2 linked regions of the Homo sapiens genome follow. The protein of the gene in region 1 purifies or fractionates together with the protein of each later gene. This does not show direct contact. Each region holds a gene or a part of one and is shown on either strand. Other genes may lie near its edges.

What was found.
Region 2: the proteins of PHACTR4 (region 1) and FMNL2 purify together in Homo sapiens (affinity purification with western blotting, with the first as the bait; one study listed by BioGRID). This does not show direct contact.

Annotation. Positions count from the first base shown.
Region 1 is NC_000001.11:28,368,216-28,372,731, forward strand, and holds the start of PHACTR4 (phosphatase and actin regulator 4), read left to right. Parts: upstream 1-1,524; 5' UTR 1,525-1,610; intron 1,611-4,516. UniProt on the Homo sapiens protein: Regulator of protein phosphatase 1 (PP1) required for neural tube and optic fissure closure, and enteric neural crest cell (ENCCs) migration during development.
Region 2 is NC_000002.12:152,625,063-152,628,874, reverse strand, and holds part of FMNL2 (formin-like protein 2), read right to left. Parts: intron 3,438-3,812; coding exon 3,313-3,437; intron 2,351-3,312; coding exon 2,148-2,350; intron 577-2,147; coding exon 342-576; intron 1-341. UniProt on the Homo sapiens protein: Plays a role in the regulation of cell morphology and cytoskeletal organization. Required in the cortical actin filament dynamics.

The sequences.
Region 1 (4,516 bases):
CTCAACCTCACAAAGTGCTGGGATTACAGGCGTGAGCCACCGTGCCAGGCCAATAAATATATTTTAAATATTTTTTTGAGACAAGGTCTCCCTCTGTCGTCCAGGCTGGAGTGTAGCGACACCATCACAGCTCATTGCAGCCTGGACCTCCCCAGCTCAAATAATCCTCCTATTTCAGCCTCCTGAGTACCTGGGACTACAGGCACGTTCCATCATGCCCAGCTAATTTTTAAAATTGTTTTTGTAGAGATGGGGCCTCACTCTGTTGCCCAGGCTGGCAGGCTGGTCTCAAACTCCAGGGCTCAAGGGATCCTCCCGCCTTAGCCTCCCAAAGTGCTGGGATGAGAGGTGTGAGCCACTGCACCCGGCCAATTTTTTTTTCTTCTTTTTTCTTTTTCTATTGAGACAGGGTCTTGCTCTGCTGCCCAGGCTGGAGTGCACTGGTGCGATCTCGACCCCCCAGGCTCAAGTGATCATCTCACCTCAGCCTCCCACGTAGCTGGGACTACAGGAGCTTGGCACTAGGCCCCGGATAATTTGTTTGTTTGTTTGTTTGTTTGTTTTGCGACGGAGTCTTGCTCTGTCGCCCAGGCTGGACTGCAATGGCAAGATCTCGGCTCACTGCAACCTCCGCCTCCTGGGTTCAAGCGATTCTCCTGCCTCAGCCTCCTGAGTAGCTGGGATTACAGGCATGCGCCACCGCGCCTGGCCAATTTTTTTAATTTTATGGATAGTGTATTTGAAAAGTCACATCGATTTTTCTCCTGGAATGTCCTCTAGATGTGCCGTAGCTTCAAGTTTTACATGTAGGTCTAATTTAGGTTGTGTGATACAATGGGTTTGCATTTAGAAGGGTCCTCTGGCAGCAGCAAGGAAGGTTTTCGGAGGGTGATAGCCTAGGGCCTGAAACTACTGAGACTTGGAGAGAAGTGATGGTGGCTTTCACTAGGTGATAGTAGTGAAGGATATCGAAATGAATTAAAATACTGGGGATGTAGAATGACTGGACTTAATGGCTTGAGGGAAGTGTCCAGAATGATTCCTGGGTTTCTTACGCACAACACTGAGGGTAGATAACTTGCTTGTACGTTTTTTGCACTTCAAATTGGTCCTCAATAAATAGTTTTTCCTTTGGGGAGGTTATGATTGAAATTTGGCCAGTCAGGGATACAGTTTTCTCAAACAACACTCTTGTATCAGTTCCCTTTTTGGGTACTGCCTGGAGCCCAGTATTGAACCCTGTCCTCCCAAGCCCAAAGACCTTTGCCTCCCATAGTACCAGGAAAGGTGCCCAAGTTCTTTTACACACAAGGTGCGCAGAGCGGCCAGCGCATGCCCAGAGAGGTCGTAAGGAGGACGACCGCCCGGAGAGAAAGGACGCACGCTTCCCGCCATTTTGTTCAGCTTGCCGGGCAACCGGCCCCTGCTGGGGACTACAAGTCCCGTAAGCCTCCGCGGCGGCACGTCCTACCCTACACTGTCCAGCCGGCTCCCTTTTTCCCCCTCCCCGGGGGCCAAGGGCTCCGGCTGCTGCCTGGCGGCCAACGGGCCAGGTAGGATTTCCGGGAGAGGCTGCTGTGGAGGCTGAGGAGGCGGCGGCGGAGATCTGGGTAAGTTCAGCGAGCAAGGGAAAGTGAGCAGGACGCGCTCAGTATCAGGCTGCGGCCTCCTCTCAGGCTGCGGCCCCTTTCTTGGCTCTGCGAGAGGGTCCCGGTCCGGGCAGAAGGTAACGGCCCGGGTCGCCGTCGCTTCGGGCCAGGGCGGGGCGGGGCCGCCGCCTCCCTCCTCGGCCCTCCCACAACGGTCCAACCCGGGCTTCTCCGCCTGAGGCAGGGCCCGCGCAGGCTCGCCCTCTCCGCCCCCCGAGACTTGGCTGGGCCCTTTTGTCTGGGCTGCGTTGCTCCCCCTTTGTGTCCGTGCATGGAGTCTCCGCCACGGGGGAGCCTGTTCCCCCGGTCCCCAACAGGGACTGCTCCCTGGGGATCCGGTTACAGTAACCGGATCGGGTCAAAGTACATTTTTCAAAACCGTCCTGCCTCAGACCTCTGCACCCCTGCTGGGCAGAACGGGGGCTTCGGAGCCAGGCGGAGTTTCTGTAAAAACCTGGAGGTTATTATTTAACTTTCAAACATCAGCCTGGGCGGCTTCAGGGCACGAAACTCCCGACGTTTTTCTTGGTGGAGAGATGAGATTAAGGAAAAGAAGCGACCCCTCTCTCCCACCCTCTACACCCCGGCTCCGGGAAACCGGGAAGGCATCGAATTTGCTGCGATGTCTGTGCAGCTCACATCTGTGATCGGTGGACCAAAGAACCAGTGGTGAATGGTAGAATGGCAGTTCACGCACCTCCCAAATCTCGGAGGAGAGTGACTTACAGGGCATCACTGATTGCTTGCAAAAAAAAAAAACCCTCCAGTGCTTCATTCGGACACTCAGCTCCTCGCTCCTTCCAACCTCTTCCTTTTCTTGTTCTTTTTAAAACAAACAGTGGAAGGAAAAAGTCCTTCAGTGGAAGAATTTGCTTTATAGAGGAACCAGAAACCCAGTGGCTTCTAGAAGTCACTTACTTTTTCGCCAAATTAAAGAAATGAATTTCGGGCGTGGTGGCGCGCGCCTGTAATGCCAACTATTCTGGAGGCTGAGGCAGGAGAATCGCTTGAGGCCAGAAGTTCGCGACCAGCCTGGGCAACACAGCAAGACCCCATCTTAAAAAAAAAAGGAATGAAGCCCGTTTAGAAATGAAGCCAGTTTAGGGGATGAGGTGTGGTAGATTCTTACCGGAAACCGCGGAACTGCGTGGATTGTGGATTCGATCAAATTTGGCTAGATAATGGTAACTGTGTATGTCCTCCTGTTGGAAGACTGCATTGCTAGAATCAGCTTAAGGTAAAATTTGTTTGTTTGTTTCATTTAAGAGACAAGAGTCTAGCTTGGTTGCTGAAGCTTGAGTACAGTGGAGAGCTCCTAGTTCACTGTAGCCTCGAACTTCTTGGCTTAAGCCATCCTTCCACCAGAGGCTCCCAGATGCCTGGGACTAGAGGCATGAGCCACTGTGCCCGACTATTTAATTTAATTTATTTATATTTATTTATTTATTTTGAGACAATCTCACTTTGTTACCCAGGCTGGAATGCAATGGCACGATCTTGGCTCACTGCAACCTCCACTTCCCAGGTTGAAGCGATTCTCCTGCCTCAGCCTCCTGAGTAGCTGGGATTACAGGTGTGTGCCACCATGCCCAGCTAGTTTTTGTATTTTTGGTAGAAACAAGGTTTCACCATGTTAGCCAGGCTGGCCTTGAACTCCTAACCTCAGGTGATCCACCCGCCTCGGTCTCCCAAAGTGCTGGGATTACAAGCGTGAGCCACCGTGCCTGGCCAATTTTTATGTATTTATTTTTTGAAATAGGGTCTCGCTGGGTTTCCCAGGCTGGAGTGCAGTGAGTTGAGCACTGCTCACTGCAGCCTGGACCTCCTCCTGGGCTCAAGCCTCTGCCTCCAGAGTAGCTGGGACAACAGACACAGGCCACCAGCGCAGCTAATTAAAAAAATTTTTAAAAAAATTTTTGTATTGATTGGGGTCCCACTCTGTTGCCCAGGCTGGTCTTGGACTCCTGGGCTCAAGTGATCCTCCCTCCCAAAGTGCTGGTATTAAACCTTAAGATAAAGAATACTGTATTTGTTTTTTGAGATAGAGTCTTGCTCTGTTGCTCAGGCTGTGCAGTGGCGTGATCTTGGCTCACTGCAACCTCTTCCTCCTGGTTTCAAGCGATTCTCCTGCCTCAGCCTCCCGAGTAGCTGGAATTACAGGCATGTGCCACCACTCCCGGCTAATTTTTTTTTTTTTTTTAGTAGAGATGGTGTTTCACCGTGTTGGCCAGGCTGGTCTGGAACTCCTGACCTAAAGTAATTTACCTGCCTCCGCCTCCCAAAGTGCTGGGATTACAGGTGTGAGCCACCGTGCCTGGCCAATAAAAAATTCTAAAGAAGGTCATTGCAAATAACCCTTTTGAAAAATAGGTTAATTCGTGTTTCAAGTCTCTGGGATGAGGACAGCCAGGAGGACCCCTTTACATGAATCAGGGAAGGTTACTGAAGTTAGATAGGTTAATTCCTGCCCTAGCCGAGTAGGCAAAATAAAGCCCTTCACCCTGTATTACTTTGTTTGATATCTCATAATGGAAGTGACTTACTCTTGAGAATCCTAGATTGTATTAGTAATACTGTATAGGGATGGTAGATCCTTAATGCAGTTCTTCAATTTTTAATCCAGCAGTGAGTGAGGGTCTTTTGTGTTTTCCTGGCTATAGTTTGAAGAAGCAACCACAGAATTGCTCTAGTTTTAATAATAAACTGGTTGGGCGCGGTGGCTCACACCTGTAATCCCAGCACTTTGGGAGGCTGAGGCAGGCAGATCACCTAAGGTCAGGTGTTCGAGATCAGCCTGGCCAACATGGTAAAATCCCATCTCTACTAAAAATATAAAAATTAGCCAGGTGTGGTGGTGGGCATCTGTA
Region 2 (3,812 bases), on another chromosome or scaffold:
CACTGCCAGAAGACTAGTATCTTCAGAGAGGAACCAAGTTTGAGAAAAGAACCAAGTTTCTTTGTCCCCTGTCCTTTTGAAATCTAGAGAACATCTGTAGACACAAAAAATGGCATTCTTTCGGAAGAATGGCAATATGGAATATGAACATTCCCCATTTTTCAAATTTACTTTGCATACATAATGTGGAAAAGATGGTTGAAATAAAAATGCAATTTAGAAAGTTCTGGGAAGGAGTCTTTAGAACCCATCACACTGAGTACGATTCTGGGAGAGACTTTAAAAAATAACGATTCCACATTTCTTTGGACCCCCTCCCCTGCCAGAGTCAGTCCACTCACAGGAGTCAGCATCTGAATGCTTTCAGCAAAGTTCCCAATGAAGGCCATGATGGTCATCTTCTGCATGAGCCTCTCGATTTTACTAAACTGCATCATGAACCGATCTTCATCTGACAAGTTTTCCAGAGGCTTCCTTTCCCGCTCGTAGAGCCGAAGCACTTTCACTTCATTCTCAGTTGGTAGGAACCGCATCAAGCATTCCACAAAGTCCACAGGCAGTGTCTTCAAGTCAAATCTAAAGACAGATGTGGAGAGATTAGCATTAGAGAGAAAAACCTCCTACCCCCTTTTCAAGTTCATCCATCTTTTCAGGTTCATCCATCCATCATCCATCTGGTACAGCTCATCAAACACCAAATCAACGAGTCTAAGATTTCTCCAGCTGTCCTGTGAAGTCCCACCCTGGTGCTGGTTCTTGACTATGCCTCAGGTAACTTAACTGGTTCTTCCTGAAAACGTGGACCTTGTCACAACTGCCATCCTCAGTTTTTAGGGTACTGGCATAGCTCTAAGCCTCTGGAATCAGGAGTAAATGAAAATAGGAAGAGGTAGAACCAAGGCCAAAGCATCTGATGGTTTCATGGTTCAAGCACATAGTTGACAGGCATTGTGAAGTACAGCTAATTCAGGAGATTAACACTGTACACATTAGTACAGAATATCTGGTGAATTATGTAAAATATTTCAATTAAACCAATAGTCTGGTAGTATTTTTTCTTCTTTGGAAAAAAATGCATCCAAATGCCTGTATTATTGAATGTTTTAGGTTAAGTGCATACATTCCTTGAAGTTCTTTTTGGATATATGCTTAATTTGAACAAATGAAGTATTTGTTACAGTCTCTATTCTCTATTATTCTCTGGACAATCTTTGTTCAGCTAAATAATAGAATTACATTTAATCATCATGACAAACAAGATATATAAAGATTTAAAGCCAGGCTGCACTTCAGGATTCAATGACAGAAATCAGAACAGACTGTAGGAGGCACTGGACTACCAGATTATGACCCTGGTTGAGGACACAAAATTGGAACAAAGGATTTCTTAGGGTCATTTACACCTCGAAGCCTCTAACCAAAATGTATAAGATAATCAATTTATAAATAATTAGTTCCTAAAACATTTAATAATGTCTTCATCACATTTGAAAGTCACCATGGCCACAAGAAGAATAGAAGGATTCTTCTAATAGAGGAGTAAAACCAATGCCTTCTATGCAGTTCAAGAGTAAAAAATGAACTTTGTTTAAAATGTCCTGAAAGTACTGAAAGCAAAACAATTCACATTCCTGTTGTTACGAATTAAAATATGCATCTGTATCATATTTGCATCTGGCATTGAACTGTATCATTCCACAAATGCCATCAAATTTGTATTCAACAAATCTGGATAAAATCCAGATACTCCAGAGAAAACTGACATTTTCTACCTTTTCTTAACATCTGCCACGCTCAGCTCAACTTTCCTTTTATGTAAGCATTGCTGGAGGCCCGCATAAGAGAGTAGACCCAGATAATAAATGATGTCACAATCCAGATGTTATTCTTCTAAAACAATTAGTTACTGGTTCTAATACAACACTCCCCAGGGTGATTTCTGGTCTACCTCTTTCGTGTTGGCATCATATTCAACTTTGAAGTAGCACACACAGAGTTCAGATCTCTCAAGTGTGGATATCAAAAATTGCTCCAGCTTTTATCTTAGGTCTTGTCTCACTATTGAAATATTTGTCATCTACTAATTCATAACTTTCTCATTTTCATTTTATCATAAACTAACTAGAATATAATTTTCCTGAACTTACACATGAATAGCTTTACATATTTCATCAGCAGTCTTTCCAGCTTTCCTTAAAGTTATGGCAAGATTTTTGGCCCTGTTTGCTTCTAGTAATGTCACTTTGTTTGATCCCTTCTGTGGTATCTTCTGTTTGCTTGAAGAAAGATCAATGGCAGGTCCTTGGGCTTTTGTCTTGAATATTTCCTCAAATTCATCCACATTTAAATCCTAAGATAGAGAGGAATGACCATGGAAAATTGGATTATATTTAAAAATGAAGTCCGGAAGCCACCAGTTAGTTTCTTAAGCAAAAACGTCACTTTTTCTATTAAGTACTTGTCTTTGGCCATGGCTTCCTCTATTTTTCTTGTTTTTGTTATAGTACAACTTCTGGCACATACACAAAAGTGAACATAGGTCGGATGTGGTGGCTTATGCCTGTAATCCCAGCACTTTGGGAGGCCAAGGCGGGTGGATCACTTAAGGTCAGGAGTTTGAGACCAGCCTGGCCAACATGATGAAATGCGCTCTCTACTAAAAACACAAAGAATAGCCAGACATGGTAGTGTGTGCCTGTAATCTCAGCTACTTGGGAGGCTAAGCCAGAGAATTGCTTGAACCTAGGAGGAAGAGGTTGCAGTGAGCCGAGGTTGCGCCACTGCATTCCAGCCTGGGCGACAGAGTGAGACTCCGTCTCAAAAAATAATAATAATAATAATTTAAAAATAAAATAAAATAAAAAAATAAGTGAACATTAGACTACCGATTCTAACCCACTAATTCAATTACTTTTCAATAATTAGCTTGCACAGACAGCTGCCACAGATTAAAATTATCCATCAGATAAGGCAGTGAGTGTGATAATTGAGCTCACTTGCAGTCCAAAAGTTTTTATGTCTTTCTCTCAATTAAGGGAAGGAATTATTATGTCAGATCTATATTCTGTGGCATACACTAAAGATGCTCAAAAGCATTTATTCCAATTTAACATAACTCTTTGAACAGTTTTAGAGCCACCTTACAAAACAGTGTCAAATGTTATTCTCCAATATTACATACATGTTTCTTCTTTACATCAGGGGACTTAAAACACTAGTACTTTATCTCTGACACTTCCAGGTTAACAGAACACCCATGCCGGCTTTGCTGCACAGAGTGCACCTCTAGTTTCTAACCAATGAGAAAAATACCTCCAGAATTCGCTCATCATCAATTTCATTGAAGACTGTGCCATTGATCTGATTGGGCTTCAGAGCAACCCAGTTAAACACTGGCATTCTGAACTTCGTCTTGATTGGCTTCTTAATTTTCACAGCTAAAGACATCAAAGAGAATGGAATTAAGATCCCACCAAAAGCCTACGACCCTCAGGAACAATCAGACAACAGTCCTTGCAGATGACACTTTGACACTGGAGGAAGGTTGGCAAGAGGCGCGCAAGTAGGTTTTTAAAGCTGGAAAACAACACACATGGCCTTGGCCAGAGCCATTTGAGGTCATCATTTGGTTGACTAACACATCATTGTATTAAAAGACGTCTTAAGGGCCAAGGGTTGATTTTTTTTTTTCTTTTAACTCAGGCAACTAATTTGCTGCATTACAGTTACAATATTAGGACAATGGTTGGGACAAATAAAAAGTGTTGGAGAGCAAAGATTATTACTCATGTTACTAGATAGCAGAGAGGGCA